Linked DNA regions of Homo sapiens. The protein of the gene in region 1 purifies or fractionates together with the protein of each later gene. This does not show direct contact. Each region holds a gene or a part of one and is shown on either strand. Other genes may lie near its edges.

Evidence for each region.
Region 2: the proteins of SPAG16 (region 1) and ADCY6 purify together in Homo sapiens (affinity purification with mass spectrometry; one large-scale study listed by BioGRID and IntAct). This does not show direct contact.

What each region holds. Positions count from the first base shown.
Region 1 is NC_000002.12:213,861,374-213,865,025, forward strand, and holds part of SPAG16 (sperm-associated antigen 16 protein), read left to right. Parts: intron 1-1,111; coding exon 1,112-1,255; intron 1,256-3,652. UniProt on the Homo sapiens protein: Necessary for sperm flagellar function. Plays a role in motile ciliogenesis. May help to recruit STK36 to the cilium or apical surface of the cell to initiate subsequent steps of construction of the central pair apparatus of motile cilia.
Region 2 is NC_000012.12:48,765,660-48,769,009, reverse strand, and holds the end of ADCY6 (adenylate cyclase type 6), read left to right. Parts: coding exon 1-73; intron 74-293; coding exon 294-419; 3' UTR 420-2,816; downstream 2,817-3,350. UniProt on the Homo sapiens protein: Catalyzes the formation of the signaling molecule cAMP downstream of G protein-coupled receptors. Functions in signaling cascades downstream of beta-adrenergic receptors in the heart and in vascular smooth muscle cells.

The sequences.
Region 1 (3,652 bases):
GCCATGGTTTCTTTGGGAAATGTGTTTCTTAAAATCCATATTGCAGAAGAAAAGAACAAGGCCATTTATAGAATAGACTAAGGGAAAAATGAACATGTGATCGCTGTTTTTTAAATCATCATATGTCTTACCGCACCACATTGGCAAGTAAATGTATTATTGTCTTTGAATTTAGATGGCCAAATTGAAATTGAACAATTTGTTACTAATATTTAGGTTGGAATTTTAATAGGTGCTTAACATTGGACACATCTGTTCCCATTACATTGTAAGGCATAGATGAAACTTTATACAAATAAGATTAAAGCATTGCCATAGCTAAAATATCAGGCATTAACCTTGTAGACTTTTGATTTTAAAATAGTTGAGCTCCAGTATTAAAATAGCCACAGTGATCAGAGTCCAGTTCAAATAATAGTGCTTAATGTGTTAATCATTAATCTTACATACTTCTTTCTCATTTCCCTCTATGCCTTTATAGAGTGGGAATTGCCTTATATCTTGAATTCATTACTGTAATTTGTGTACTGTGCATTGACTGAAGCCAATTTAAGTGGTAATGTAGGATAGAATTTTAGTTCCTTCACTTTGTGTAGATAGTGGGCCATGGAGTTAATGTTTCATTTATAGTATTTATTACAGAACTATGATAATGTGGTTATGATTCATGATCTTTTCCTGGATAATGGCTGATTTAAGACATATTATAGTTTGAAAACAATGTTGATGTTCTATAGTAACCATGACCACTGGTCCAAATATCCCAACATAAAAATACCATTGGCATAATTTTTCTTCCCTTAAAGAAAAACCATAATTACTCTTTTCAAACCAGAATTAGATATGCACAATCACCTAAACCAACTACTTTGTCTTGCAAATGAGGAATCCGAGATCCAGTGAAGCTGACTAGATTGATGGAGATCAGAAAGCTACTAGTGTTAGAGCTATAGCAGGGATGCAGAACCTGCTTCCTCTTATTTTGGGGCCAGTACTCTCAAAACTATCCTGCCTTGCTAAAATCGGATAATCACTGCCATTTCATTTATTCATATTCTGAAAACATTTGCTATTATCTCCCCATAACTCTTTTTTCTTTCTCCTCGCGCAGTGTCTCCATGCAACCCCACAAAGACATCCTAGTCTCCTGTGGCGAGGACCGACTCTGGAAGGTGTTGGGCCTTCCAAAATGCAATGTGCTTCTCACGGGATTTGGCCACACTGACTGGCTTTCAGACTGCTGCTTCCATCCCAGGTCAGTGCACAGGACCCCTAGAAATAGCCTAATCTCTCTAGGAATGTGCTCCTTTACTCTGTCTGCTCACTCTGCTGTCTTTGATGATGTTTTTCTTTCTGCAACAACACACCCTGCACTGAATTTCAAAGTGTATAGACAAATTCCCCTTTGGTTTTCAGTATATTGACTTCTGATTGTTTTTGATATTTGGTACATGTAAAACTTAGTCCACATGCTTATGCATTTAACCAAAGTAATAAGCTTCTCAGGACAAGCATTATTAAAATTCCTTGTGCTCACGAGCCCTGACAAGGCACAGAGATTTCTAGTCAATAATGCATGCCAGAATTTACCTTTGTTAATCTTTGGAGTTTTCCTTTTAGAATTAATTTATGTACCAAAAAGGATCAGATAGCTGCGATCAATTTCTCTAAAAATTCAGTGACACACAAGATATTAAAAAGAACAAAGCAATACTGAGAACACTGGGCCCTGTAATTTCTGAAATTCACTGAACCTAAATTCATTTGTACCTAAAAGACCAAGGGCACAGAAGGGAGATCATTCTTAAAGACACAGATGGAAAACTGCCCATAGTTCCTTGTGGCCCATTGCTACTGCCAATCCTGTTTTCTGCTCATCATACTTCTTGGATCTGCTTCGTTCTAAAACTCTCTGGCCTGATTACTTTTTTAACCCATAGTTCTTGGTGCTTTTCTAAACCATTCTTTTGGAAATTTTGTTCTTGGGAAGATTTCTTATGATTTATTTTCATGTTTTCACTAAACTCCTTTTTTAAATCAGTTTTTATTTTATCTTTGCTATGAATGTCTATGAAATTAGATAAAAAAATTTTATTTAAATTTAGAAATTTGTAAGTTAATGACAAGGGTAAACTAAGTTTGTTTTTAACTTTTGAAAATCTTTCCAAAATATAATTTATCTTTAGTACTAGATGTTTGACCCTACTTTATGAACATGCAGTGTATTCCGTATCCAGTATATAAATTAAACAGAGCCTTGCCACCCTCTCACCTCTTAGGAACATAAAACCCATGTTGCAAGCAGAGACAATACAATTAGAAGAATAGCCAATCGCTTATGTAGCTACTGGGCATACTAATCAGATTTTGATAATGCCCTGTTACCATGACAGCCAGTGACTCAGAGATTTTCTCATTAGTGTTTGACCAGCAATGGTCCTTTTAATAGATCTTCCTGTTTTCCCATTCAATTACTGAAATTAATATGAGGTGAGATACATCATTATTCACTCATAATATGAATTTACATTTAGCACTTTCTTACGGCAGAATTGTAGTAAAATACTGCTATACTGTTTGCTTTTTTTCAGTGCATGAGACAAATATAAGGGGAGAAAATAAATATAACCATAAGTGTTTTTAAATGAGAGATATTGAATAGCAAATGTTCTTTTTGTAGAATTAATAAAAAAGAAAAAATGATCATTAGAAACAACAACAAAAAAAGCTCTATTTTGGTTTATTTGTGGTGAAACACATTCTGAAAGAGTTTATATCTCAGACCACAAACATTTTATAATCCTTGTATGCAAACCAACACTAAATAGCAAATGAATATGAAAAAATATATATGTACCTACAGATAGTGTTGATAGATTAAAAGTTGTTGGAATTTATGTTTCCTGGAATTTAAATTTGTAATATTTGACTTTTGCTTTGGCTTATGTGATTTGGTAAGAAAAGATAGTTAATTAATGAAGATAATATATTTCCTATCTCATGGTATACTTCATCTATAATTTAAAATCAAACCTAAAATAAGTTTGATTTAAATATGATACTCTAATCTGTAGTTGATTTTTTAATGAATACAGTTATAGTCTTCAGAGTCCAGCTCTGGGCTCTGGTTGATTCTGCTTTCTTGGGAGAGGCCTAGGGTGGACACAGTATATACTAACATTTACTGTCCTCCTATGCTCTTCACACAAGACACATATACTTTTTCTTATTTTTTTCTTTCCTTTGCTTTTAACATTTCCTTTATTTTTAATTTCAGTTGCTTCTAGTTGAATATTTTCTCTAACTGTTAGCTGGATGTATTCCTGACTACAATGGTAGCTGACACTGTCAGGCACTCTATCTTCTGCAATGATGACATATCCAAATTTTGTTTGGGGGTCAATTATTCTTGACATGATTGTGGTTTACCTTGACTGACCCCAATCAATCTTCTTTGTCCTATTTCTCGTATCATAGCAGACATCTCAAGTGCCTAAATAATAAATACAATAGACATAGTAATACTCATATCAGACAAAAGAAGATTAATAGGTAAAAAAATAAACTGAGGGGATAACTAACACTTGAGAATCCAGCTAATATGATGTCGAAATATATAAAACAAAAAATCTCGTAAAACAAGATGATAGTA
Region 2 (3,350 bases), on another chromosome or scaffold:
GTATGACATCTGGGGGAACACAGTGAATGTCTCTAGTCGTATGGACAGCACGGGGGTCCCCGACCGAATCCAGGTGAGGGGGATATGAGCAGGGGCTGGGAGGAACATGGGCCCGGAGGGCTTCCACAGGTGTCTCTGCAGTCTGCTAGGACAGGGGTAGGGTGGCTAGTGTTCTGTGTATGGTGGGGCAGGGACTGGGGGAAGGGAGCTAGCCTGACTAGAGAACCCCTGGGCCCCTGCAAATGCAGCAGGAAGGATTCCAGGCTAAGCGGGCTCCCCTCCCACTCCCCCAGGTGACCACGGACCTGTACCAGGTTCTAGCTGCCAAGGGCTACCAGCTGGAGTGTCGAGGGGTGGTCAAGGTGAAGGGCAAGGGGGAGATGACCACCTACTTCCTCAATGGGGGCCCCAGCAGTTAACAGGGCCCAGCCACAAATTCAGCTGAAGGGACCAAGGTGGGCATTGAGTGGACTCTGTGCTCACTGGGTGGAGCTGTGGCAGGGGGCACTGAGCCTCCAGACCCTGCTAACCACAAAAGGGAACATCCCAGCAGGCTGTGCTTGGATCATGCTCGTCTGCCCTCAAGCTGGAAAACAAGGGGCTACCTACCGAGAGGATTATGCAAGTGACTTTCTTTCTTACTTGGGGTAGGGCTGTTCCCTCTCCAATCTTCCAGCCTTTGGGAGCAGGGGAGGGGTCAGTAGCAGAAGCAGAGGGAGGCCTCTTGCCTGAGGGATTAAAATGGCAGCTTGCCATGCCTACCCTTCCCTGTCTGTCTGGGCAGCAGGTTCAGGGCTGAGCCCTTCTTTTCCCTCTTTTTTCCTGGGAATATTTTGTACAATATTTTGTACAAAGACAGGCATGAGGAGTGCCTATTCCATGCTTGCCTTTGCAATACCTGCATCCCCAGCACTGGTCCTGGGCACTTCCCCACCCCAGCCAGGTGTCCCTCCTATGCACAGAGCAGAGGAGGGAGAAGCTCTGGGGAGCCAGCTTTGGCCATATTTCAGGAGAATGTTTCCATGTGCCAAATCTTAGTCCCATGATCTGTCCCCAAAGGGGAACAAAGGGACCTCTGACAGCTTAGATTTAGCCCCAGTTCCTGCACGCTCCAGGGAACGGGGTGTCTGGCCTCACTGGTACTGTGAAAAATGCTCAGAGAGCAAGCCTGTGTGTGGGGATGTCAGGTCAGGAGCTGGAAGTTCACCTGCAGGTGCCAAAGAGCAGGCCGGCCAGGGCTGGGGCAGTGCCAGACTCTGATCTGAGGACCCCGTCGGGGTCCAGATCAGGTCACTCTGCCCCAGTGCTCTCTTGCTGTCTGCTGACAAGGGGGCATGGAGCATCTCTTCCTCTTCTGTTGCCAAATAGAAAAGGGTCAGGGCATGGAGAAAGGTGACCCTGATCCCAAACCTGCCCTCCCAAGTCTCTGGTGTTGGGGAGGGCCCGTGTGTTTGTGTAACTGTGTGTGCATGTTGGTCTTTGTGTGCATATCTGTTTTCCAGGTCTATGTGAGTCCTTGTGCTCCTGCTCCTCAGCTCTCCACCCCAGGTTGCCTCTCTCCTGTGGGCCTCTGTCTTCTGGGAATAAAGCAGGGTTTCCTACTTCAGGGGATGTAGAGAGATGCCCAGGTTGCACAGGAGTGGGATGGGGTGTGGTAGCAAAAGGAGGGAGAGGAGTCCTTTTTGTGCCAAATCCCTAAGTGCCGTTCGGGGGCCATGTGTGCAGCATGACTCTCCCTGTCTGTGGCAGGGACCCAAGCGCTTGCTTAAGCCCCAGTGCTCCATGCCAGCACTTGAACTGTCTGGGGTTTGATGGACAGAGGCTGAGGAATTTCCTGGCTTCCCCAGATAGTGTCCTGGGACATGGTATGCTTTGGGGCTGGGGTAGCATGGAATCCCTCTGAGGACCTGGATACTGGTACTACGGGGTGGGGAAGAGGAACCTTAAACTTGGCTTTCCCCAGCCTTCAGCCTGAGTCTAGCATGTTTCTAGCTCCCCAGTCCCTTGTGAAGCCTTGAGGGCTGGCAGAAGGGTTAGGAGGTTGAACTCTAGATTCCCTTCCTGTCTTTGCCTTCCTTTTACCCCTTTCCCTGCAACCTCCTTGACTCTGGCCTGAATTTGTTGGTGCCTCAGTTTCTCTGTCTGTACCTATTTAAGCCAAAGGCACTAGCCTGAATTTTGCTTGAAGATCACTTTGTCTTGGAAATGACTAGAGAGGCAGAGGAGAAGGGTTTCCAGAGTTGCTAGGTTTGGGAGTGGAAGGGGCAGGCAGTGCACTTGCCCCTCCTCATGCCCCTTCTGACACCAGCTCCCTGTGGAGGCCTGGTTTCTGGGTAATGCCTCCCTTGGGCATCTTCATGCATCAACCAAATGGGCCATCAGGTACTTCATTAGTCATGGCAGAAGGAGGGGAAAAGACTTGTTTTCCAGACAGAAAATCTACTCCCCTGTCCCCAGCCATATCCCTGGATAGGAAGGGATAGGAAGAGACTACTTGGTGCCATGGGGTAGGGGTGAGGGTATAAGTAGATCAGAGTGGGAAGACCTCAGCCTTGGGTGGCTTGTCTCTGCTTCTTGCCAGGTGGGAGGGCCTGTCCACACCCTGGATCCCCGTACCACAGTGCCAGCCATGCCCTTCCCCTGGGCTACCATTGTCCCTTTCCTCACCCAGTTGGTAGAGGAGTCAGGAGGTGGGAGGCCGTGGGCTTTGGTTTTATAATGTAACCACTGTGGGGGTGGGGGAGGATGGTGAACCATGTATTTCAGTGAAATATTTAATATATTTAAATATCAATAAAATCAAACTCTTTGTAAAATTCTCTGTTCTCTGTAGCTGTTCTGGGCCCTGGGTGGGTCAGAAGTGACAGAGCCTGGTGTAGGAGGCGACCTCCTGCCCCAGGGCTCCGTGGGCCTCTTGTCTGTGGTCAGAGGACTTCCTGTGGCTTTCTCCCTGCTAAGGAGAAGCTGCAGTATCTTCAGAGTGTGACTACTCAAGGCCTTTCAGCATCATGAGCTCCAGTGTGTGCCTTCCCAGATTTGTGTGTGACCCCTGCCATGCATGAAGCCGGCGGTTCTTTCCAGTGCCTTGGCCCCTCACAGACCTCTCACTCCAAGGTCTGGCTTATTCAGGAATCTCCCACACAGCAGCTCTCACAACAATCTGGACACTGGAATCACTCCCATCCTGACCCCACAGCTCCCCCCGTGCACACAAGCAACTTTTAGTCCAGTCTGTTTACTGTGCTTTCTCCATCTCCTCCTCCCATTAGTCAGCCATCGGAACTGGGAAACCTCCTTCTTTCCCCCTCTGCACTCTTGCCACAATTCATCTTGTCTTTCTGCAGCCATAT